Homo sapiens: one gene and its partners. The protein of the gene in region 3 interacts with the protein of the main gene of each other region in a biochemical or structural test. Each region holds a gene or a part of one and is shown on either strand. Other genes may lie near its edges. The genes, in order: CDK19, STAT2, SMARCA4, NR4A2, CBX5, DPF2 and CDX2.

Region 1 (3,500 bases), on a different chromosome or scaffold from region 3:
CTCCCAAAGTGCCGGGATTACAAGTGTGAGCCACCACGCCTGGCCCCATTTCTTTGAACAGATATTAGATATTGCTAAGGAAAATAGGCATATTTTTGAGAAATAAATATTTTCTCTTAGGCCAGCTCTTTTAGAATTGCTAGACTAGTAATCTGTCTTCTGTGCTTTTACTAGCTATTTTATAGAGATGCTTAGAAAATACCAGTATTTAAATACATTTTAGGACAAATTTTGGTTTTATGGGTTTATGGTAAAAAATTAAGTATCTTTAACACTTAGTAAATGAAGTAGACATCTGTTTATGTTTAACTGGTTTGTCATTTTTGTAATGCAAGCCTTCAAAAACTTTTTGAGGCCTAAGGGAAATTAATGTGTTCTTTTTCAATGAAATTTGATAATCTAGAGCAGTGATCAGCAAACTTTTTCTGGCAGATACTAAATATTTTAGGCCTTTTGGGCTTTACTGTCTCTGGTGCAATTACTCAACTCTATTGTAGTGCCAAAGCATCGACAGATAATACGTAAACCAGTATGGATAAGGATGGCTGTGTTCCAGTAGACCTTTATTTATACAAATAAGCAGTTGGCTGAATTTAGTCTGCAGGCTATAGTTTGTTGACTCCTGGTGTAGAGCAGTGATGTCCAATAGAACTTTCTGCAGTGATCTGAAAATGTTTAGCATCTGTGCTGTCCAATATGCTAGCCACAAGCCACACGCCACACATAGGTATCGATTACTGGAATGTAGTTAGTGTGATTAGAAACTAATTAGTAGCTATCACATTGGACTGTGTAGGTTTAGAGTCTTTGGATGAGTGGCTTAGCAACAAATAATTCTCTGATCCATCAAGTGACCTTTCAATAAAAATGTTTAAATCAGGGTGTGGATAAATAGGAAAACTGTTATGTCTTTTTTCAAGTTACAGGAGAAATATTAAGGCTGAAATAGCTTGATAAAGCAAACCAATACTTGAAGAACTATCAATTTATGAATGGAATCAAGGATATTTAACTACTTTTTCAAAAAAGTATTTTATGGCCGGATGAGGTGGGAGGATTGCTTGAGCCCAGGAGTTTGAGGCTATAGTGAGCTATGATGATGCCATTGCACTTCAGCATGGGCAGCAGAACGAGACTCTCTTAAAAAAAAAAAAAGGTATTATAAAAAAAAGTTTGTAAATAGTATATGTGCGTAAAAATATACAATGTGGCTGGGCGCGGTGGCTTATGCCTATAATCCCAGCTCTTTGGGGAGGCCGAGGTGGGCAGATCACTTGAGGCAAGGAGATCAAGGCCAGCCTTGCCAACAGCGAAAACTCCGTCTCTACTAAAAATACAAAAAATTAGCCGGGCGTGGTAGTACACACCTGTAATCCCAGCTACTCGGGAGGCTAAGGCACAATAATTGCTTGAACCTGGGAGGTGGAAGCTGCAGTGAGCTAATATTGCACCACTGCACTCCAGCCTGGGTGACAGAGTGAGACTCTGTTTCAATAAAACAAAAATAACAAAAAACCACCAGTGTAACGTAAGTCATCCCTTTCCCAGCCATTCTTTCCCTTTTTTAGGGGCAGTCATTCTTGGTTGTCCTTTAAGAGGATTTTCTTTTGGGGTATGTGCATGTGTGTTAACTTAAAGATGTCATTAAATATGACATGCTAGTGTGCTGCACACTTTTCTATTTTTAGATCATGGCTCACTGCAGCTTTGGCTGCCTGGGCTCAAGCAAGTCTGTCTCTTGGGCTCAAGCGATTGTTTCACCTCAGCCTCCTGAGTAACTGGGACTACAGATGTGGGCCATGCCCAGCTTTTTTTTTTTTTTTTAAATTATTTGTAGAGATGAGGTCTTGCTATGTCTCTCAGTCTGGTCTTGAACTCCTGGCCTCAAGTAATCCTCCTACCTTGACCTCCCAAAGTGCTGGGGTTACAGGCATAAGCCATCATGCTTGGCCCTATTTTTATTTTTATTTTTATTTATTTAATTTATTTATTGAGACGGAGTCTTTCTCTGTCACCCAGGCTGGAGTGCAGTGGGAAGATCTTGGCTCACTGCAACCACCACCTCCCAGGTTCAAGCAATTTTCCTGCCTCAGCCTCCTGAGTAGCGGGGACCACAGGCATATACCACTATACCTGGCTAATTTTTTGTATTTTTAGTAGAGACAGTGTTCACCATGTTGGCCAGGCTGGTCTCGAACTCCTGACCTCAAGTGATCCATCTGCCTCAGCCTCCCAAAGTGCTGGGATTACAGGCGTGAGCCACAGTGCTTGGCCCATATTTTAAATCTTAAACATTGCTTAAACATTATGACATATCTATATACAGAGATGCCTTGTTTCTCTTAATAGTTTTGTTGTATCTCATTGTATTGACTTACATCATTGGCTGTCTCCAGTCTTGCTAGTACTAACACTGAAGTGAATATCCTAGTAAGCACAGCATTTTGTACCTATTAATGTGTCTGTAAGTTAAAGTCCTAGAAGCTGTTTACCTTTGGAAGTAATGGCTTGGAATGGTTTACTAATATGGTGATGTATAAGATAGAAATATCTGAAGACTGGAGATGGGGGGGTTGGCTAAGAATAAGGAAGTGAAATGTTAAGACAATAATAATTTTTTTTTTTTTTTGAGATGGAGTTTCGCTCTTCTTGCCCAGGCTGTTGTGTGATGGCACGATCTTGGCTCACCGCAACCTCTGCCTCCCGGGTTTAAGCGATTCTCCTGCCTCAGCCTCCCAAGTAGCTGGGATTACAGGAATGCGCCACCATGCCTAGCTAATTTTGTATTTTTTAGTAGAAACGGGGTTTCATCATGTTGGCCGGGCTGGTCTCAAACTCTTGACCTCAGGTGATCTGCCCACCTCGGCCTCCCAAAGTGCTGGGATTACAAGCGTCAGCCACTGCACCCAGCTGACAGTGATAATTAACACATAAAAATGAGCTATAAATCATTTGTTAAAGGAAGTACAAGTTACTTACTTTTTTTTTTTTTTTTTGAGAAGTGTTATCCAGGCTGGGGTGCAGTGGCACGATCTTGGCTCACTGTACCTCTGCCTCCTGGGCTTAAGCTACTTTCTCATGGCTACTGTTTTAGGAGCATGGAAAAGGCATGTCTCTGAGTTTTACATAGGAAGAGTAGATCCATGGAAAGGTTTTTAATGCAATCTATGTCAGTGTTGATGAATTAAGTATTTTTATTTTTTAAAGTATATAAAATATAGTGTCCTACATTTTTGAACTTAATATGCTAGACAAATAAGTTCATATGTGGTGTTATAAATTGTGTACAGTTGACTGTTGAACAGCAGGAGTTTGAACTGTGTGGGTCCACTTACACGCAGATTTGTGAAACCTGCGTATATGAGGGCCAACTTTTTGTATAGGTGGGTTCTCCAGGGCCAACTGCAGGACCTGAGTATATGTGGGTTTTGGTATATGCAGGGGTCCCAGAACCAACCCTTTAGGTATACTGAGGGACATCTATTTGTTTTGAAAAATTA
Region 2 (3,500 bases), on a different chromosome or scaffold from region 3:
GGTTATTTTCAATTTCTTGTTACCTTTTTCCAGGAAACGCTATATTTTATGGTAATTATATTGTGTTGTAGAAAAATCACTAGTGTGTCCTCCAACATACTTGAAAAATACCTACTGTTTTCAATATTTTCTCATTTAAAAATTTATTATAATTTAGTCTTTTAGAAATATACCAGGCCAGGCATGGCGTCTCATGCCTGTTATCCTAGTACTTTGGAAGGCTGAGGCAGGAGGATCACTTCAGTCTTGGGGTTTGAGACCAGCCCGGGAAACATAACAAGACCCCATCTCTACAAAAAAAAAAAATTTGTTTTTTAATTAGGCATGTCCGGACACAGTGGCTCACACATGTGGCCAGCACTGTGGGAGGCCAAGGTGGGTGGATCACTTGAGGTCAGGAGTTCAAGACCAGCCTGGCCAATGTGGTGAAACCCCATCTCTACTAAAAATACAAAAATTTGCCAGGTGTGGTGGCGCATGCCTGTATTCCCAGCTACTCAGGAGGCTAAGGCAGGAAAATCACTTGAACTCGGGAGGCAGAGGTTGCAGTGAGCTGTGATCATGCCACTGTACTCCAGCCTGGGTGACAGAGCGAGACTCCGTCTCAAAAAAAAAAAAAAAAGATTAGGCATGGTGGCACACGCCTGTAGTCCCTAGCTACTCAGGAGGCTGAGGTGGGAGGATTGCTTGAGCCCAGGTGTTGGAGGCTGCAGTGAGCCATGATTATACCACTGTAGTCCAGCCTGGACAACAGAACGAGACCCTGTCTCTAAAAGTATATATGTACACATACCATAATACCCAGCTACTGAGGAGGCTGAGGCAGAAAGAGTGCTTGAGTCCAGGAGTTTGATGTCAGCCTGAGCAATATAGCAAGACCCTCACCTCTTAAAAAAAAAAAAAGTAGATTAAAAAAATACCACAATTGCTCAGGTAGATTGAAAAACAGGCATATAGTACTTATGGTACAGGACCAGCATGCATGCATGCATGCATTGATTGATTGATTGATTGATTGATTGAGACAGGGTCTCTCTCTGTCTCCCAGGCTGGAGTGCCTGGCCTTAAGTGATCTGCCCACCTTTGCTTCCCAAAGTGCTGAGATTACAGGTGTGAGCCACCATGTCAGCTGGCGAGGCTTTTTAAAAGATAGTTCCAAGTGTTACAGCTCTTTTAGGATTTGTCTAGCAGGCTTTCAGGTTTTTGCCAGAAACCACCCCCACCCCCACCCCCACCAAAAAAAAAAAAAAAAAAAAAAGATAGTTACAAATGTTTCCCAGAATAGTTGTCCCAATCGAATCTATTTTCTCATGTGTAGTGTATGGTTGTTTTCCTGTCACCACATTGCTGATTATTATTATTTTTAATTATAGAGACAGTAAAGTACAGTAGTTAAAAATGTGAGTTGGGGCTGGGTGCAGTGGCTCACACCTGTAATCCCAGCACTTTGGGAGGCCAAGGTGGGCGGATCACCTGAGGTCAGGAGTTCAAGACCAGCTTGGCCAACATGGCAAAACCCCGTCTCTACTAAAAATATATATATATAAGTTAGCCGGGCGTGGTGGCACATACCTGTAATCCCAGCTACTCGGGAGGCCAAGGCAGGAGAATCTCTTGAATCCAGGAGGTGGAGGTTGCAGTGAGCCAAGATCACACCATTGCACTCCAGCCTGGATGACAAGAGAGTGAGACTGTCTAAAAAAAAAAAACAAAGTGTGAGTTGTACAATGAGACTGCCTGGGATCACATACAAGCTTCATCCCTTACTAGTTGTATGACCTTAAGCAAGTCACTTAACCTTTCTGTGCCTCAGTTTTATCATCTGTAATGTGGGGAAAATAATAGTACCTGCCTCAGAGGGTTGTTTTGAGGATTAAATGCATTAATATGTGGAAAGGGCTTAATATAAGTTGTACATAGCATATGAAAACTGTTATGTTAAATCTATTAGCAGTTTTATATGTGAAAATAGCTTTGATTTTCATTTCTTGGATTATGAATCATGTTGAATAATCCTTTATATGCTTCCTGGATTCTTTTTTTTTCTTCCCCCCAGTCAGTTTCTGACTCTTCACATATTTACAGAGAGATCTTGGAACCTGGATGGGGGAATCCAGGAAACTCATGGATTCCTTCTTCCTGAATTTTATCACCCAGGTTCACAGCTGGAGCAAAGCTGTTGTTTCACCTGAGGCAGCTGCTGAAGGAGCTGAAGGGACTGAGTTGCCTGGTTAGCTATCAGGATGACCCTCTGACCAAAGGGGTGGACCTACGCAACGCCCAGGTCACAGAGTTGCTACAGCGTCTGCTCCACAGGTCTAGAGGCCAGGCAGGAACCCTGGGGGAAAGAAGGAACAAGGGAAGCCATTCTTACAGATACTGAGCTATATATTCTCTCCACACCTCTCTCTCCTCAGAGCCTTTGTGGTAGAAACCCAGCCCTGCATGCCCCAAACTCCCCATCGACCCCTCATCCTCAAGACTGGCAGCAAGTTCACCGTCCGAACAAGGTTGGCATTCCAGAACTCATTCCCACTTCCTTTTTCCAACCCTGCCACTGTGTATTTTCTGGCTTTACAGCTCTTCCCACTCTTGGCTTTTTCTTCTCTTTCCCTGCAATCTCCCTACCTCTTATAATCCCTCTTCTCTTTTTCAAACATCTAGTCTATCCGGAAGGTTGAGGTTGACCACTTTCCCCTATCCCCCTTCCTTCCCCCAGGCTGCTGGTGAGACTCCAGGAAGGCAATGAGTCACTGACTGTGGAAGTCTCCATTGACAGGTAAATTGGAGCAGGTGAAGGGTGGCCAGGACACGGGCTGCTGGGGTGGAGGAGATACTCACTCTTCACAACAGGGCCCTAGGGCTATCTCCTTCCTCCTTCCAATCCTACCTCACAGAAATTATAATTCATTTCTTTTGTTGAACACTTACTTTGTGACATGCAGCATGTCAGCTACTCATTTAATTGTCACACCAACCCCATGAATAAACTATTACCAGTGCACTGTACAAACAAAGATACAGGCTTAGAGAGACTGATTACATCTCTTCTCAAGGCCACATAGCTAGTGAGCTCAAGTCGGGTTTGAACCGAGGTCTGTCTGATCCCAAAGACGAAACTCCTAACTTCCATACTCTTTTGCCCAATGATTTTTTTAAATTTATTTCTTTTCAGGAATCCTCCTCAATTACAAGGGTAGGTGCTTGACAAGGACACTGCAAACATCTGTACAGTGTATGACCTGCAGAACCACATTCGGCAGCCCTGGTGGCACAAACAAGGAAGAGGGGGATTTGGGATATGGACAAAGGGAGATGGCGAGATCTGAAATGAAGTGGAACTTCTGTTTTTTTTTTTCTGCTGAGTTTTTAGAATAATTCCATTCCTTGTCTCCATGTATCTTCCTCCTGGAACAGCTTCCGGAAGTTCAACATTCTGACTTCAAACCAGAAAACTTTGACCCCCGAGAAGGGGCAGAGTCAGGGTTTGATTTGGGACT
Region 3 (3,500 bases):
CTGGTGGTCCCGGCACGGCTGCGGTGGATGGGGACCCACACGGCAGCGAAAGGCACACACACGCACACGCACACGCACGCTCCGTGGGACCAGGGCCCTTGCTGGCCGTCTCAGCCGAGAAGCCGAGGATTGAATGGGCATGGAGACTGAACTACCCCTCTCACCTTTAGAGGTGGCTCCTCCAAGTCGGGGTTGACGCCCGCTGGCGGAGGGGCAGTGTGGGCGAAGCTGGCACTGCCGCTGCCCGTGCTGCAGTGTCTGCTCTGTGGATAAATAGAGGACTTCAGTCTCCAGGGCTGTCAATCCGGCGTCTTTCACCAGCAGTTTAGAAAAAAAAACCACTTCAAAGAAAAAGCAAGTACTCATCCTCTTTCCGTTCAGCCCACACTCCCTTTACTCCAAAGGGATGCAAAAAAAATAAGAGTGCAAAAAAGGTAAAAAAACAAAAATGAAAGCCGCTCACGCGTCCACCATTCACGCTGGGGAGGGGTCGGGGCCGGTGCTGGGCTCACCTCATCCTGCTCCTCGTGCTCCAGGATGGCCTGCAGGAAGGCGCGCCGCTCATGGCTGGAGGACTTCTGGTCGAACATGCCGGCCTGGATCACCTTCTGGTCCACGTTGAGCTTGTACTTGGCTGCAGCTAGGATCTTCTCCTCCACGCTGTTGACGGTGCAGAGGCGGAGCACACGCACCTCGTTCTGCTGCCCGATGCGGTGGGCTCGGTCCTGCGCTTGCAGGTCCTGGGGGAAGAGGTGCCAGTCAGTCCCAAAGGAGCCCAGGAGGTCATAAAAGGGAAGGTGGCCTCTGACACTAGCTGGAGAGGTGTGCTGTGCGTGCCACCCTCGGCCTGACAATTCTGCCCAGCCTGACCTGCCGCCGCATGAAAACAGAGCTGGTGGAGCCTGGGCCGCCATGTGTCCCTCGGGGGAAGGGGACTCTCATCACGTTCCTCCAGAAGTGCCACCTTCTACCTTATTGGGACCCCACAGATATTCGGGAAGAAAGCACCAACCCCCCAGGGGATTATATTCTCAAGCAGCTCCCGTGGCAGCGGCACAGCTCCCCACAGCGTGGACCTACACAGTCGAGCACCATTTACAACAGGGGGCCGAAGCTCGGCCGTGTTGTGGCAGTGCTTGGTTTGGCTGTGGGCCCTGCCACTCTCACAGTGCACACAGAACCGGAACCAGGTCTCACCTCTGTGAGCCTCAAAACTCCCTCAGCCTACATGGGGCCCAACCCGTGGCTACTGCATACCTCGAATGAGTGAATAAGCACCAGGAGTGTGGCCCAGTGACTGGTGCAGTTAGCTCCCAACAATGCAGGTGCCGTGGATGGGCTTTTTTTCTTTTTTTTTTTTTTTGAGACAAAGTCTCGCTCTGTCGCCCAGGCTGGAGTGCAGTGGTGCGATCTCAGCTCACTGCAACCTCTGCCTCCCGAAGTTCAAGCGATTTTTCTGCCTCAGCTTCCTGAGTAGCTGGGGCTACAGGCATGCACCACCATGCCTGGCTAATTTTTGTATTTTTAGTAGAGACAGGGTTTCGCCATGTTGGCCAGGCTGGTCTCGAACTCCTGACCTCAGTTGATCCACCCACCTCGGCCTCCCAAAATGTTGGGATTTCGGGTGTGAGCCACTGCGTCCAGCCTGGGTTGTTAGTTTTATCATCACCCCAGCACAGTACGAGGAGGCTAACACGAAATCCTGTCTCTGGGCCCAGGAGCTGCAGGACCAGGGTGAGTACCAGTGATGCTCTGAAACTTAAGACTGGCACCCATGGGGTGGCAGAGGCCACAGCTGGTGGGGACCAGGAGTGCCTTGTGTCTGCCGCTCAGCCCTCCTGCCCTGTCAGCACACTTCCTGGCAGGGCCAGCCCTCCCCAACGCGCCCCCAGCCCTGAGGTGCAGCTTCCGCCTGCTGCCGGCCTGCCAACGGGGACACACAACTCAACCACCTCCTAAGAAACTGGCTGGTCACCAGGGTCTGGGCAGAAGCTACACCCCAGCCTGATCGTAAAAGGGGCCACCAGTGACCACCACGGCATTCACCCATCAGACAAGCGACAATTTACACACTGAGAACGCTGCTGCCCTCACGCTGCAGGGAAGGGCAGGGTACATTCACACCCCAGCGTAGGAGTGAAACCACTTTGGCAGTAGCAACCAGAACACGAAGAGGACAATGTCTGGGGTGGAGCGACCCCATGTCTGAGGGCTGCGCAGACCTAGGGTGTTTGCACAAGCACTCTGAGAGAAAGAGGGACCCTGCTGGGTTGGTGACCAGGCTGATCAACAGAAAAGACGGATGCCTGCCAACCAGAGTTTGAGAGCAGACGTCCAGGGGTGGCCATCTGCCGGGACGCCTGGTGGCCGATTAGATGGCTGGGTAGCTTCCGATGTGCACTCGGCGGTTGACACCCACTGCTTGGTGGAAGAGGCACATGCTAGGCCACGCCGCATCTGTGTTAATCTCAGTACATACATGTGCGAAGGCAGATGGGCTGGCAGAGGCTCAGAAGAGAGCACGGTTGGAGAGGAAGGGAAAAGGGACTCCTGACTGTCACTGGTGTTTACATGTTAAAAACAATAAGAACTTATCAGTCTTATAATGAAACACAGAGAAAAGTTTAACTCATTTTCAAATTCTTGTAGCTATGTAACAGCATGACCTGGTATCCACCGATGCCGAGGCCCATGAGGGGTACATGGTTATGGAACAAGAGGAGGAAGTAAACGAAGTGGCATGGAGTTTACCCCCAATTGTGTCTGAACAAGCGCCAGTGTGTGTGCTCACAGGGCACACTGCAGGGGCCGCCCCACAGTGACGGCGCAGATTGATCAGGATACTTTCCACCTCCTCATGGGTGCCATTCCAAGATTTAAGAAAAACCAAACCGACGGATGGCTTATACACTGCTTTCCCAATCAGAGGGAAAGGCTGTTTGTATTTTGGGAAACAGGAGGACCCCGCCTCTTTTCTCCCTGATGACCTATGGAGATATGGGTGCAGCTCCTCCCGGCTCCTGGGGTCCAAGACAATGTGGAGGAGGCTGGAGGACCCTCAAGCCAGGGCCGTCTCCTCGAGGTTTTGCAGGCACCCCCTTCCTTCTCCTCGACCTGGGGCCCGGCCCGCTTTTACCTGGTGAGGATTCCAGTCGCTGTCAAAAATGATCACAGTGTCTGCCGACTGGAGGTTCAGGCCGAGCCCCCCAGCCCGGGTGCTGAGCAGGAAGATGAAGTACTCAGAGCCGGGCTCGTTGAAGGTTTTCAGCAGCATGCCCCGGTCCTCCGCCTTCGTGGTTCCTGACGGGCACAGAGGAGAACAGGGTCAGCGGGGTGACCTCAGGGGTAGAGTGGGGACACCAAGGAACACCTGCTTCTGAGAGCAGGAGCAGGATCAGCACCTGCCAGCATCCCCAGATCCCTGGCTCCGCACTCTCCACACGGGCCTGTGGGCCACTGGCGAATAACTGGATTTCCAGTGTTTCACCACAAAACGTCTC
Region 4 (2,892 bases), on a different chromosome or scaffold from region 3:
TGATCTCCATGGAGCCAGTCAGGAGATCATAGAATTGCTGGATATGCTGGGTGTCATCTCCACTCATTTGATAGTCAGGGTTCGCCTGGAACTGGAATTTCATTTTAAAAAGCACTTAATGAGGTTCTCTAAAATATATAACCCGTGAAATTGCTAACCCCGTTTCTAATAGGGGAGCCAGGTTTTTATAACAATTAAACCTCTCTCTGACCAGTAAGGAAATTAGATGTTCCGGGGCAATTAATTCAATTAGGGATGGTGCTACGAGGTCGCTGCTTTAAATATGTAAATTGCCATTTCCATACAGACTAAATACAGTGCCATCCAGCCCTGGGAAACGTTCACTCTTATCTCCACAAAACAATTGACATGTTAGTATTCATGCTAGTCCCAGAGTGGGCCTCGAGCTGAGACGCCCTTTTGCAAATCTTAATAAAATTGCAGTCCCTACCAGGTTTGCTCAACATACTTCCTCCAATTAAAGCCCGCATATTTTTCACAGCTGGAGTAAAAAGGATCTGACCACTTGATCCCCCACCCCACTGGCATTCTTTACACCCTCTCCTTCCCTTCCCTGACCCCCAGACAGGCCCCCACATCCTTCCCCAGCACAGTGCCAGGAAGGATGAGGATTAAAGCATCTATCTCTATGGAGGACTGGGAATAAAGTAGATTGGGAAGGGGGAGAGTTTGCACAGCCCCTGGATTTCATGGTAGAGGCACTGGTGTATATGGAAGAGGAGGGGCGATGGGGTAGTGGGGTAGTGGGAATTCACACAGCTTCAAACCCTGTGGCGTGTCCCTCTCCTCCTTCCTCCATCCTGTCCTCATGTCTATGCCCCCAGCTACATGGATTGTCTGAAGATCTGAATCTTGAGGCCCTGGCCAGAGCTGCGAGGCATATACAGCCTTGCTTGCCTTCTTTACCCCCGTTGAATCTGAGAGTTAATGACGGATGTGGGGAGGGGTCCTGCCCATCTGTCGGTTTGTCCACATGATATCCCCCCCGCCAGCTTCTTACCCTGGAATAGTCCAGGCTGGTCATAGCCGGGTTGGAGTCGACATGGGCCCTGACGAGGGCACTGATCAGACTCACCGGGGGCGAAGGGGGAGAGGGCTCCTGTGGGCTCTTCGGTTTCGAGGGCAAACGACCTCTCCGGCCTTTTAAACTGTCTGTGCGAACCACTGCAAAGGAAGAGCCCTGTTAGCGCCGCTTTTCCGAGCCCAGGCCCAGCTGCTGCCTCGGTCCCTCCCCGGGGAAGGCCGCAGCCGCGGGGCACCAGGCTGAGCGGCTGAGGGCCCCAGTGCTTGTAAAGCCTTCACTGACTAGAAGCATTAAAAAATGCGGGGTTATTTTATGTCTTCCTCCAAATGGGTCGTATAGTTAAAGGAGAGAAGGGCCTGGCGGCTTTCTCTAGGGAAGGCCGGGCAAGCAGGCAGCTGCAGGGTCCTGGAGGCCATACTGAGGGGGAGTCGGAGATCCCCAGCACCGGGAAGTGGAACGTGATGCTGGAGTATGAGCAGTGGTTTCCTAAAGGCGCAAACTGGAGGGTCGGCAGCTCCCCTCAGCCTACCTTCTTTGACCATCCCAACAGCCAGGCACTTCTGAAATCGGCAGTACTGACAGCGATTCCGGCGACGCTTGTCCACTGGGCAGTTTTTATTTGCTAAACACACGTATTTTGCATTTTTTTGCACTGTGCGCTGCAAAAGGAGACAATATAGACCAACATTTTTTTTCTTCTTTTGAAAATCAGGCAACTCGGAGAAAATTTCTGTTATGTGACTGGGGTCTACGATTCCTCCCCACAAACAAACACATACACACAATTCCATTTTATTTTTTTCTCTTCCTTTTCTTTCTTTCTTTTCTTTTTTCCTCCCCCAGGGCATTTAACAGAAGAAAATTGATAGCGTTAACATTTGAGCTAACCTTGCCGCTCCTTGCTGTGTTTTATATGCCAAGAGAAGGAGAAGGAGACGCTCAGTAAATACAAATCCGTGGGCATTCATATTATTTACATTCCTTGGAGACCTTCTCTATTTAAAATGATAAGATTATTCAATCAGGATGGCGAAATAAAGAGATCACTTAATTTGACCATAGGGAATTCTGTTCCACTTGGTTAGCTCAGACACGGTTCTCTGTCCTAACCAATTTCATTCTGAACAGGGAAGACAGCTCCTAGCACATGCAAATGACCCTCTTCCAACTCCGGCTCCAGCAACTTCGGGCGGGGGCCAGCCGGGTCGGCTGAATGCGAGGGGGATGCGACCCTGGCCTCCCAGTCTTTCTGCTTCCCTTTCTCAGACACCCGGAAGTCCCCGCCGCAGCCCATGGTCTCCTGCAGGGCAGCTTCGGCGGACCCCGGAGAGCTGGGCAGTCCCGGGAGAGCTGGGGCTGGGCTACTGGCACCAAGGCAGAGGGCACACTCCGAGGTCCCGGGCACTAGGGGCTCCCTACCTGCCTACTCCGCTCCCGCCATTGCTCACCTTAAAGAAGCCTTTGCAGCCCTCACAGGTGCGCACGCCGTAGTGTTGGCAGGCCGCGTTGTCCCCACACACAGCGCACAGCCCCTCGTTGGAGGGGGAGCCCCGCGACGGCGGTGAGGGCACCTGCGTGTCGAGCAGCTGAGACGCGTGGCCGATCTGCAGGCCCGGGAAGCCCATGGACGCGGGCTTGCGAATGGGGTTGGGCACAGCGAAGGTCTGCCCGTCCACCACGTGGTGGCTGCCGGCGGGCTCCGGGTTCATGGGGACGTGCAGGGGCCCGTCGAAGCGCATCTGGCAACTAGACACCGGGGTGCCAGGGGGCGATTGCTTAAAGGAGAAGAGGGAGAGGCGGGAGACTGGCGTTTTCCTCTGCTCGATCATGTGCGTAGTGGCCACGTA
Region 5 (3,500 bases), on a different chromosome or scaffold from region 3:
AGGCAGAGTTTGCAGTGAGCCGAGATGATGCCACTGCACCCCAGTCTGGGCGACAGAGTGAGACCTTGTCTCAGAAAAAAAAAGTTTTTACCACTTTTTGCTGCTTAAACTTACACATACGATTGATTGCATCTTGTCCTTGTTTGGCTTCCTAAAATAATGGCAAATATGTTTTTGAAGAAGGTAGACTTTGCCTCACATCCTTCTTTTTCACTTGATTCTAGCTAGCCTCTTTCTTTTCCTGGGATTCTTTTGGATCCACGTCTCAAAACTTTTTTGACCGCAATAAGAAATATATTTTACACTAATCCTGTACACACATTGAAACATTTCACTAAACGTGCAGAGTACTCTGATATTCTTTTGTCTGCAGTATACTATTTCATTGTCTTAAGAAAGCAGTCAATTTCCATTGAACTGATTTCACAGCTGTTTATAGACCCAGGGTTTTGGGGGAAAAAGACTGCTGATCTGAAGAATAGGTCACCAAATCATGCCAACTTTGATTGCTTTCTGAGTCAGTTCCTTCCATCTCCAGCCCCAGCCACTTGTACAGATGGTCCCTTGCTTGTGATATTTCGACTTAAGATTTTTCACCTTTACAACGGTGTGGAAAGCAATTTGCATTCAGTAGAAACCATATTTCAAGTATCCACATAACCATTCTGTTTTTCACTTTCGGTACAGTAATCAACCAATTACATGAGATATTCAACACTTTATTATAAAACAGGCTTTGTGTTAGGTGATTTTGTCCAACAGTAGGCTAATGTAAGTATTCTGAACACATTTAAGGTAGGCTAGGCTAAGCTATGATGTTCAGTAGATTAGGTGTAGGAAATGAATTTTCAATTTTTCATATTTTCAACCTATGATGGGTTTATCAGGACATAACCCCATCAAGGAGTATCTATGTAAACAGATTAAGCAGTGACCCATTATTTGGTGTTTTTACTCATGTGTTTTACTTTGAAAGATTATAGGAGCCAAACCGAGACTTTCTAGTTTACTGTCGTGTGCAAGTGAAAACTGCTTGTTTTATTGTGAAGTCTCACAATGCTTAAAGAGGGAAAACAATAAAAATATTGCAAAATGTCTCCCAATGTGATAGGTTTTTTTTTTTTTTTTTTTTGGAATGGAGTCTCGCTCTTGTTGCCCAGTCTGGAGTGCGGTGGCACGATCTTGACTCACCTCAACCTCCGCCTCCCAGGTTCAAGCAATTCTCCTGCTCCAGCCTCCTGAGTAGCTGGGATTACAGGCATACGTCCGGCTAATTTTTAGTAGAGACGGGGTTTCTCCATGTTGGTTAGGCTGGCCTCAAACTCCTGACCTTAGGTGATCTGCCTGCCTTGGCCTCCCAAAGTGCTGGGATTACAGGTGTGAGCCACTGTGCCCAGCCTCCAATGTGGTAGTTAATAGATATGATGAACTTTTCTCTCTGGTGGTGAAATTTTAGTGGGTAATTTTTCATTGAAATTCTGGTACTATCACAGAGTTAGAAATCCTAACTTCCAATGTGATACGTGTTGGGCCTCTAATTACAGAAGTTATAACGCTTGTGCTTAGAACTTAGAGACATACTGCCTGGGCGCAGTGGCTTATGCCTGTAATCCCAGCACTTTGGGAGGCCGAGGCGGGCAGATCATGAGTTCAGGAGATTGAGACCATCCTGGCTAACACGGTGAAACCCCATCTCCGCTAAAAATACAAAAAATTAGCCGGGCGTGGTGGCACACGCCTGTAGCCCCAGCTACTCTGGAGGCTGAGGCAGGAGAATTGCTGAGCCTGGGAGGCGGAGGTTACAGTGAGCCGAGATTGCACCACTGTACTCCAGCCTGGGTGACAGAGCGAGACTGTCTCAAAAAAGAAAAAAAAACTTAGAGACATACCTACTATTGCAACCAAATCTAAAAGGGGTGTTTACTAAAGGGGAATATATTCTGTCTGAAAACTAGTAAGTGGAAAGCTTCAATTTGGGTAGTAGGTGAGCAGGATGATAGTTGGGGAAAGAAAGAGTGAGCCTACATTTGAAGCGGCTGGATTTGTATATGGCTAGGGAAATTCTGGAGATTCTCAGAGCCCTTAACAATACTCTAGAAAAGAGAAAGGTTTGGTATCAGGGTACAAAGATTTTTGAGGAAGACTAAGTCGCTTTTTGTTTCTATTGAGATTTGTTTGTTTTTGAGACAGAGTCGCGCTCTGTCACCCAGGCTAGAGTGCAGTGGCGTGATCTCGGCTCACTGCAACCTCTGCCTCCCGGATTCAAGCGATCCTCCTGCCTCAGCCTCCCGAGTAGCTGGGACTACAGGCACGTGCCACCATGCCTGGCTAATTTTTTTGTATTTTTAGTAGAGACAGGATTTCACCGTGTTAGCCAGGATGGTCTCAATCTACTGACCTCATGATCCAACCGCCTCGGCCTCCCAAAGTGTTAGAATTACAGGCATGAGCCACTGTGCCCGGCTCTATTGAGGTCTTTAACCACATAGCATGATTTCCATATCTTATTGGTATAGCCCATTTAATTAATAACTGTCCTGGTAAAGCATTTCTAGTCTTTATTTTGTCCTTTTACTTAGATTATTTTTATTTCCATTCATCTTACATGAAACTGGGCCTAAAGCTGTGTTATGGATATTGATTTTAAAAGTAATAAATTACAACATGAGATACCACTTGACTTAGTATGGCTGTTTACATATCTGCTATTCGTGAACTCGGACTCTGGGCAATCATCTTTTTCTCCTGATATAAACTTTTATTTTTCTTCCTTGCTTATAGAGAATGATTTTAACTGATCATTGTACTAATAGGAAGGAGTCCAGGTCATCCTGAGAAGAGTTCGCTTGTCCAGAGTCCAAGATGCAGATTTGTTGGATTTCTGTAAGCCACTCGAAGCCACATATTCATTTCTGATGACAGCTTTACACTTGTGCTGGAAGAACACCCACTGTGACAACTGCTGCCTATGTTTAGTCTGTCCAGGAGCTCTACCAACTAGCATGTTTGCAGAAAAACCTACACTGTTCTTGTTAGCAGCTATGTAAATATTAGATCTTTCTGAGTTTCTCTTCTCAGATCTGCCAATTTCTTTGGGGCAAATTGTATCCTGCAGTAGCCTCAATTTACCCTTTGAAATGAGGGATTAAAGGTTTTAGACATTCTTTGGGTTATCTGAAACACAATTCTTTTTGGATCAGTAATGTTTTATATATGTCCACTTTATGATGTTTAAAATTTTATTCCCCCTATGTATTAGTTTCCTGTGGCTGCTATAACAAATTACCACAGACTTGGTGGTTTAAAACAAGAGGAATTTATTCTTCTCAAAATTTTGGAGCCCAGAAGTCTGCAATCAAGATATTGAGGCCCCTCTGGAGGCTCTAGGAGAGAGACTGTTCTTTGCCTCTTTTAGCTTCTGATTATGGTCAGCATTCCTTGGCATATCTCTCTGTTCTGTTTTCACATTGTCTTCTCTTTTGAGTACTTGCATCAGAACT
Region 6 (3,500 bases), on a different chromosome or scaffold from region 3:
TCAAAATAAATAAATAAATACATAAAGAATAAATAAATAGCTGGGTGCAGTGGCTCACGCCTATAATCCCAGCACTTTGGGAGGCTGAGGCAGGCGGATCACCGGAGGTCAGGAGTTCGATACCAGCCTGGCAAACATGGAGAAACCCCATCTCTACTAAAAATACAAAATTAGCCGGGTGTGGTGGCACGTGTCTGTAATCCCAGCTACTTGGGAGGCTGAGGCAGGAGAATCACTTGAACCCAGGAGGCAGAGGTTGCAGTGAGCTGAGATTGTGCCACTGTACTCCAGCCTGGGCGACAGAGCAAGACTCCATCTCAAAAAAAAAAAGTAAATAAATAAATACATAAATAACCATGTCACTTCCCGAGTAAAACCCTTCAACAGTGTCCTGTTGTACCTAGAATAAAACCCGAGGCCCCAGAGATCTGGCAGTGCTTGCCTCTCTCATCTCATTGCCCACCATACTCTCCCATGCCCTGTCATCTGGCTTGTCCAACATAAGGCCTTGGCGCTGGCTGCTCCTTTCCTGGGATTCCTCTACCTCCAAATCTTGACTGGCTCCTTGGTATCACCAAAATTTCAACACCAGCATCACCCTCCCAGAAGAGCCATACCTGACCATCAAAATAAATCACTTATGCAATTATTCTCTGCCACAGTACTGATTTCGTTTTTTTCATGGCACATTATACAAATCTCATTTACATCCTTGCTTATTGTTGTTCCTGTAAGAATGTAAATCTCATGAGGCAGGGACCTTGTTTGTCTTTAGCATCTTTAGTGACTAGAACAGTGTCTGACATAAAATCAGCACTCAATATATATCTGGCAACAAATCAGAGTTCTGACTGAGATGCTAGGGAGGGGCGTGTGGCATGTGGGAGGGATCCTGCTCCCTTTTTAAAAGAAAGCTCACTTTAGAGGGAACTGTGCAAACAGCAGTAAAAGCCCAGAAGGAGCCATGCTGAGGAGGGGGCGGGGATACACACGTCATTCTCGGAGGTGCCGCAGATATTGCAACATTTGCACTCGATGCACTGCCAGCGGTATGTCTTCACTGCCGCCATCATCACGGGGGTAAATTGGAGGCAAGATGGATGCCCTGTAGTGGGGGAAGTGAGTGAGACAGACAGTCGGAAATGCGGGGGGAAGAGAGGAGCTCCTGCCTGTGGCTACATCTTCTCTTGGTTAGGAAAAGCGAGGTGGGCTGGTTATGACAGCCCTAGAGGCCAGCAAGCCAAGAGCCCCTTGGGGACTGGGCAAAGCAGCAGCCTTCACGGGAAGCAGTACCTGAGCGGCCACAGTCAGAACAGGACACCAGCTCCTCGGGTTGTCCCGTCTTCTTGTTAATCTTTGAGTCCCCCAGGCAGAAGTCACAGTAGTTGTTGGGCAAGGCCAATCCATCAGGACCCTTTTTGGCTACAGAGAGAAAGAGTTTTGATGACACCCATGGGGGTCCCTGAGCCACTCAACACCCATGCAAGGAGTGGTTTTCATAACCAGGCCAACTTCTGCTTGCCCACCACTTCTGACACCTCAGCTTACATTTCTGCTCCTCAGACCTCTGGGAAACAGGAGTGGGTGGTTGAGAGTCTTCCTTGTCCTCGCCCTCCTCCTCAGCCAAGTGGGAGTGGGCATAGTGGTAACTGAGGCCTGGTCGGTTCTTGTAACGTTTTCCACAAACTGAGTGGGAAGAAGATTGCAGAGAAAGGTGTTAGGATACAAGAGTGCCATGTCCCCATCCCTGCAAGCTGTGGGGGCTCCACCTGAGGCAGAGGGCAACCATCCCTTCCCCTAGCAGCTCCACTCTGGGACAGGCCTTGAGTGACGGCCACTTCCCCTCAGCCAGGAGCATCAGGCCGTGGGGCTCTCTAGCTTCTGGGGCTCTTTTCCCTCCTGAACTCCAACCCCATGGCCACCACTGCTCTTCCATGTTGACTTTTGGGGGGCTTAGCCCTTGCCCCATCACCAGTTAGTTGCTCTGGGATATACTAACAGTCTGGGACGCTCCAGGTCAGGAAAGGGAAGGATATTCCTATATCTTTGGGGTGGCAGGAAGGGGGAAAAGTGGATAAGACTCCAAACTTTTTTACCCCTCAGTAAATGTGGGAGGCTCATGCTACCCCACACACCATGGAGCCCATCTCCCCTGAATGTGGGTAAACAAGCAGGGGATGGGTTTCTTGGGGATAGCCTATCAATGAAGCCAGTTGGGCAGTTGGTCCCCAAAGAAATTCAAGCACACTCCCATGTAATTGCCCTGTCCAGGCCTGCCAATCAGCAAGGAAAGCAGATCCCCATGAGGCATTTTGTCATCTTGAGAAGTAATACCAAGAAGGGCAAGGGGGCCAGCAGGAAAGGAGTGGGGAGAGAGGATGGCAGGAGGAGGTGGTGGGGCAGTGGGGAACATGAGCTGACCACCAGCTGCCTGGTCTGGGGAGGGAGCGGAAGGGTCTGATTGTAATGGGCTCCTGATAATGCTTCTGAAGCCACCCCATGCACTGGGCCGAGCAGCTCTAGGAGCAGGTTTGTGGGAAACAAGCAGTGGTAAAGGCAGCCTTCAGGACTTTGAGGAGTAGAGCACAGCAGAAATTCCACTGCTCCTACCCCCATGCCATTCCAGAGATTTTAAAGCTAGCATCCCAGGAAATGAGAAAGGCAGGAGGAACAAGGGAAGAGGGAAAAAGGGAAAGGAAAACCACAAGTCTGAAAAGTTGAGAGAGCTACCTCTCTGGGGCGCTTTCGAGGTATGCTTTTGTTTGAAACTATCTGAAAGACAGAAAGAAAAGTCATGAGAAGAAGGCCTTGATACACTTGAGACAGGAGCAGCAGCAGCAGGAAAGCAGAGCAAACGAGAGAGAAACCCCAGCGGCGATGGTGCTCCCAGGGTGGAGGGACAGAAGTGGGGCAAGGCAGACAGAAAGAAAAAGAGAACAGACGTTGAAAAACTCAGTGTCAGACCCCTGGGGCCCTGGCTTAACTGAGGCCAGGAGACCTGCAGGCCATCTGTTGAGAGGCCAACCCTGCCTGCTGTGGCCCCCACAAGCAACCCTACCCCAGAGGATGGCAGAAATCTTTCCCAGAGCATGCAGGTCCCACCCGTCATATAGCAGGGACCCAGGCCTCCCAGGGGTCTCAGACGGAAGCAGTCAGCAGGCAGGACAAGAGCCCAGGTTTGTTTTAATACTCTGGGCAAAAACACAACCCTCCCTCCTCTCATATCCAGAGCAGGAGCTGGGTCCAAGGCAAGGTCTACCCACCCACTTGTGAGGCACTCACTGTCACAGGCATAGGGCTTATCCCGGTCCTCCAGGATGGAAGCATCCAGCTTCTTACGGGCACTGCCCACACCCTTACCCTGCCAAGAAGAGCAAAGAGACACCCTTATTTTGGTAGCTGGGCCTGAGGAGTTAGACTCTTTTGGAAGTGGCCGCTAATCTCACTTGAAATAAAATAAGGAATTCCCTAGGCCACCCTGTCCCAAGATGCAGGCAGCA
Region 7 (4,291 bases), on a different chromosome or scaffold from region 3:
CTCAAGGGAGATAAAGGACACTGGAGAGCACCCTAGAAATGACAGGATGAAGGCGATGGTGACAAATATCCGAGCGAAACGCTTGACAATGAGAACAGACAAGTGCAGGTCTCCAGGAGTGCCGCGAGCGCCCGCGGGTTCTGAGAGCGCTCAAAGCCGCCGAGTCAGGCTGCCCAGCCCGCCGGGCCTCGCCGCAGTGATCCTCATTCCCGAATCTGGCAGCGCTGTCAAAGGCTTGTATTAGGAGGTGAACGGCGGCCGCAGGCCCACTCCACGCGGTTGCTGAAACCGAGCTGGGCGCGCGCGGGGGCCGAATCTCGCCGCCTCCGCGCTCCTGTCGGGGCAGCTCCCGATCCCGGGCTGCGCGGCTTCGGTCCCCAAGACGGCCACTTCCAGCCCTAGGCCCCTTGGCCGCAGCGCTTCCCAAACCAAGAGAGATCCTTTCTCAACTCAGAGCTTTTCATTAGCAGTCGTTAATAATGGCCCTGAGTTGCCTTATCATCTCCTGGAAATGAGAAATAAATTTCTTCGGAGAACGTTTCCCTTTGTAAAGGACAGAGAGTTTTAAAGATACAGGTATGATGTAAGACACATAAATACCTAGGTAAGCATTAGCAGAAATTCTCTTTTCCTTATATTTAAGTATAATAAACATACAAGTGTAGCTCAATGAATTTTCACAAACTGACATTCTGTGTAACCAGCAGCCTAAGAAACTGCTTTACCAACGATCCCCTAGCTCGCCTCCAGTTATGCACGCCAATAACCACTAGCCTAACTTCTACCACATGCCCATTACTTCTGTAGTTTAAAACTTCTGATTCTTGAATGTAAACGTTTAACAATAAATCGCTTGAATTTAACTCAAATTTCAAATGTAAGATGAAGTCAGAGATGCAGCCTGAATCTAGGATCATAATTTGTCTTGTGCGGAGGGCGAGTAATTTCCTTGGGCAAGAAAATAACTGGAGGTGACAGTTGTTTGGGGCTGCAGTCGTCCGGGCCAGGAGCACAGGGCGGGAAGGAATGGCCCATCTCTTAGGGCTCTCTGCTTGTCACCTACCAGGTTGGTCAGAAACGTTCTCATCAAAGCAATGGTTCTCTTTTCTTTTCTCTTTGGGACAGAAGGAGTTTCTTGACCGCCCTCTTCCCTGCAAATGCATAAACAACCACTGCTCCTGTCTCCAAGCTCAGATTCCTACCAAGATAGCCTTTTCTCTTCCCCTCTCTTTTGTAAGTCTCTTGATTTCATTCTTTGAACCTGTGATTGGAGGTTAAAGTGCACCAGGTTGGAAGGAGGAAGCTCTTAACAATAAAGGTTTGAATATTTAGCTGTGTCAGGTCGCTGCCCTCTCACGAGCCTCCCTCCCCTTTATCTTTTAAAATGCAAATTATGTTTCGAGGGGTTGTGCGTAGAGTGCGCGCTGCGCCTCGACGTCTCCAACCATTGGTGTCTGTGTCATTACTAATAGAGTCTTGTAAACACTCGTTAATCACGGAAGGCCGCCGGCCTGGGGCTCCGCACGCCAGCCTGTGGCGGGTCTTCCCCGCCTCTGCAGCCTAGTGGGAAGGAGGTGGGAGGAAAGAAGGAAGAAAGGGAGGGAGGGAGGAGGCAGGCCAGAGGGAGGGACCGCCTCGGAGGCAGAAGAGCCGCGAGGAGCCAGCGGAGCACCGCGGGCTGGGGCGCAGCCACCCGCCGCTCCTCGAGTCCCCTCGCCCCTTTCCCTTCGTGCCCCCCGGCAGCCTCCAGCGTCGGTCCCCAGGCAGCATGGTGAGGTCTGCTCCCGGACCCTCGCCACCATGTACGTGAGCTACCTCCTGGACAAGGACGTGAGCATGTACCCTAGCTCCGTGCGCCACTCTGGCGGCCTCAACCTGGCGCCGCAGAACTTCGTCAGCCCCCCGCAGTACCCGGACTACGGCGGTTACCACGTGGCGGCCGCAGCTGCAGCGGCAGCGAACTTGGACAGCGCGCAGTCCCCGGGGCCATCCTGGCCGGCAGCGTATGGCGCCCCACTCCGGGAGGACTGGAATGGCTACGCGCCCGGAGGCGCCGCGGCCGCCGCCAACGCCGTGGCTCACGGCCTCAACGGTGGCTCCCCGGCCGCAGCCATGGGCTACAGCAGCCCCGCAGACTACCATCCGCACCACCACCCGCATCACCACCCGCACCACCCGGCCGCCGCGCCTTCCTGCGCTTCTGGGCTGCTGCAAACGCTCAACCCCGGCCCTCCTGGGCCCGCCGCCACCGCTGCCGCCGAGCAGCTGTCTCCCGGCGGCCAGCGGCGGAACCTGTGCGAGTGGATGCGGAAGCCGGCGCAGCAGTCCCTCGGCAGCCAAGGTAAGCAGAGGCTGCGCCCCTTCGGAGGGTGCTTGGGAAGGCGCGGGTCGAGCCAGTGGCTGCTGCGCGTCGCGCGTCCAGTGCGCACAGGGGCGTCCCGGGCTGTCTGGGAGCTCGGCGCCAGGAGGGGCACGGCCCGGAGACAAATTCGGGGGCCTCTGGCCCGTCGGGGCTTCTCTGACCTACTGAGCCTGGGAGTGAATATTCTGAGTCTCAACACCGTGTTCAGGCGTCCTCTTTCCAAGAGCTCCTCATTCGCAACCCCGGGACACCTTCGGGAAGCTCCGGGGAATGTCGGCGTGAGCACTGCTGGACGCCGGCAGAATCGCGTCCTCCGGCACTTGCTGCGGCATGCATTCCTTGCGTGGCTCCTGGCCGCCGAGGAGAGAGGGAGGCTCGAACCTTCTTGGGCTAGGTCTAGGCCATTTATCTCCGCTCTCTCTTTCCCCATCTGAGCCATCTAAGAAGAGAAGTGACCTGGGGGGGTCGGAGGATGGCTAGGCTGTGTGTGGGACCGGGTTTGGCCACTCGGGCCAATTCAAGGTACAGCGAGCAGGCAGACCAGGGAGAGCTGCTGTCGCTGGGAAGAAGGTGCTAGCCCCAGCTGCTAAGGCGACGGGGGCGCGCCCCGTCTCTGAACCTCTGACCTGTGAAGGGGTCATTTCAAGCAAAAGCTGGAAGGCTAGGGGCAAGAAGCCTAGGGGCAGGCGTCTGCGGAGAGAGCAGGGAGACGGGGAGGAAACCCTGGTGGGAATTAAGCCGCCGCTCCAGGTAGGGGTCATTTCTCCCAAAGCTTCCTTTCAAGGGTGTCAGGGATGTCTGTGAGTGTGTGTGTGCAACTGAAAAAGATCCTAGGTTTGCCGGACTGTGGGGCTCATTGACTCTGGGTCTGCCCCTTCTGGTGTTCGAGTGTGCCTAGAGGTGGCAAGGAAGTGCGGTGGGGAGAGTCCTAGTTGAGTGCCCCTTTTAAAGTCTTTCCCCAGCCCTCAGCGCTTCCGCTTTTCTTGCTTCGCTCCTTGATGCCCCAATTGGGCAGGCACGCTGGTTATGGGCACTTTGCAGAAGTTTATAGCCAATTACAACTGTATAAATCAAAGCGCCCTTTGGGGGCTGTCTCTGGGCATCGGTTTCTGCGTCACTGTGCACATGCTAGGGAGAGTCCTGGTGGGAATGCCGCCGACCGGGGAGAAGGCCACAGATCAGCCTCGGGTGAGCCTCAGAGCTTTGGCTTGGTCCCTTCTCCTAGAGGAGGCGCCTTTCTCCTAGCAGGGGCTCCCAGATCCTGGCTCCCAAAGACCCACTTTCTACAGCCCCTGTCTGGGGCGCGGTTGGCGGGGGTGGCGCACGCCCTAAGGAAGACCTTTGCGTGTCCCGGGAGAGCGGCCGCGGGGTGAGGGCCGGGAAGGGGGCGGGAGGGAAGCCGCCAGAGCCCAGGCCGCGGGGTCAGCAGATGAGAGGCCGCTGTGAAGTCCTGCGCCGAGGTGGCAAGGCCGCAGTCGGCGCCGGGTGCCCTTGTGATGTTAATGTGGGGTGGCCGCAGCCCGCGGGCCGGAGCCGGGCTCCTCTGCGGAGCGTCATCTGTCAAGGTGTGGGGGTGGAGGGGGGGACGCGGCCTGGCTTGCTTTGATATACACCTTCCCAGCCCTGCCATTGTCTCTTTTAGGGCCCGGAAAGAGGGTGGTGACTTTCGCAGTCAATAATGAATTCTGACAAGTCCCTCTCATCCCTCCCCTCCATAGCCCCGCTCCTAGGTTCCCAGGGGGTGTGGGGCGCCTCCAAGGCCCTTGGGGCATGGGTCGAAGAGCGCTCAGGGTCTGGTCATCGCGTTGCCCGGCACGTCCGGGACACTGAAGGGGCAGCACCCGAGCAAGGGTCGCTCCGAGACACTTCCAGGCGAGTCTCCCTCCCGGGGTGTTCGGCTGAGGGAACTGCCCTGCGCCTCAGCTCCGG

Evidence for each region.
Region 1: the proteins of SMARCA4 (region 3) and CDK19 form a complex in vitro, tested with the Homo sapiens proteins (one study listed by BioGRID).
Region 2: the proteins of SMARCA4 (region 3) and STAT2 form a complex in vitro, tested with the Homo sapiens proteins (one study listed by BioGRID).
Region 4: the proteins of SMARCA4 (region 3) and NR4A2 form a complex in vitro, tested with the Homo sapiens proteins (one study listed by BioGRID).
Region 5: the proteins of SMARCA4 (region 3) and CBX5 form a complex in vitro, tested with the Homo sapiens proteins (2 studies listed by BioGRID).
Region 6: the proteins of SMARCA4 (region 3) and DPF2 form a complex in vitro, tested with the Homo sapiens proteins (one study listed by BioGRID).
Region 7: the proteins of SMARCA4 (region 3) and CDX2 form a complex in vitro, tested with the Homo sapiens proteins (one study listed by BioGRID).

The regions. Positions count from the first base shown.
Region 1 is NC_000006.12:110,805,470-110,808,969, reverse strand, and holds part of CDK19 (cyclin-dependent kinase 19), read left to right. Parts: intron 1-3,500.
Region 2 is NC_000012.12:56,350,108-56,353,607, reverse strand, and holds part of STAT2 (signal transducer and activator of transcription 2), read left to right. Parts: intron 1-2,157; coding exon 2,158-2,316; intron 2,317-2,417; coding exon 2,418-2,510; intron 2,511-2,719; coding exon 2,720-2,779; intron 2,780-3,175; coding exon 3,176-3,196; intron 3,197-3,417; coding exon 3,418-3,500. UniProt on the Homo sapiens protein: Signal transducer and activator of transcription that mediates signaling by type I interferons (IFN-alpha and IFN-beta).
Region 3 is NC_000019.10:11,030,530-11,034,029, reverse strand, and holds part of SMARCA4 (SWI/SNF-related matrix-associated actin-dependent regulator of chromatin subfamily A member 4), read right to left. Parts: intron 3,301-3,500; coding exon 3,137-3,300; intron 741-3,136; coding exon 513-740; intron 264-512; coding exon 165-263; intron 1-164. UniProt on the Homo sapiens protein: ATPase involved in transcriptional activation and repression of select genes by chromatin remodeling (alteration of DNA-nucleosome topology).
Region 4 is NC_000002.12:156,326,830-156,329,721, forward strand, and holds part of NR4A2 (nuclear receptor subfamily 4 group A member 2), read right to left. Parts: coding exon 2,494-2,892; intron 1,705-2,493; coding exon 1,575-1,704; intron 1,186-1,574; coding exon 1,022-1,185; intron 92-1,021; coding exon 1-91. UniProt on the Homo sapiens protein: Transcriptional regulator which is important for the differentiation and maintenance of meso-diencephalic dopaminergic (mdDA) neurons during development.
Region 5 is NC_000012.12:54,273,623-54,277,122, reverse strand, and holds part of CBX5 (chromobox protein homolog 5), read left to right. Parts: intron 1-3,500. UniProt on the Homo sapiens protein: Component of heterochromatin that recognizes and binds histone H3 tails methylated at 'Lys-9' (H3K9me), leading to epigenetic repression. In contrast, it is excluded from chromatin when 'Tyr-41' of histone H3 is phosphorylated (H3Y41ph).
Region 6 is NC_000011.10:65,343,852-65,347,351, reverse strand, and holds part of DPF2 (zinc finger protein ubi-d4), read right to left. Parts: intron 3,362-3,500; coding exon 3,283-3,361; intron 2,773-3,282; coding exon of another isoform or gene 2,731-2,772; intron 1,687-2,730; coding exon 1,549-1,686; intron 1,423-1,548; coding exon 1,294-1,422; intron 1,106-1,293; coding exon 993-1,105; intron 1-992. UniProt on the Homo sapiens protein: Plays an active role in transcriptional regulation by binding modified histones H3 and H4. Is a negative regulator of myeloid differentiation of hematopoietic progenitor cells. Might also have a role in the development and maturation of lymphoid cells.
Region 7 is NC_000013.11:27,966,516-27,970,806, reverse strand, and holds the start of CDX2 (homeobox protein CDX-2), read left to right. Parts: upstream 1-1,491; 5' UTR 1,492-1,800; coding exon 1,801-2,341; intron 2,342-2,513; exon of another isoform or gene 2,514-3,360; coding exon of another isoform or gene 3,361-3,550; intron 3,551-4,291.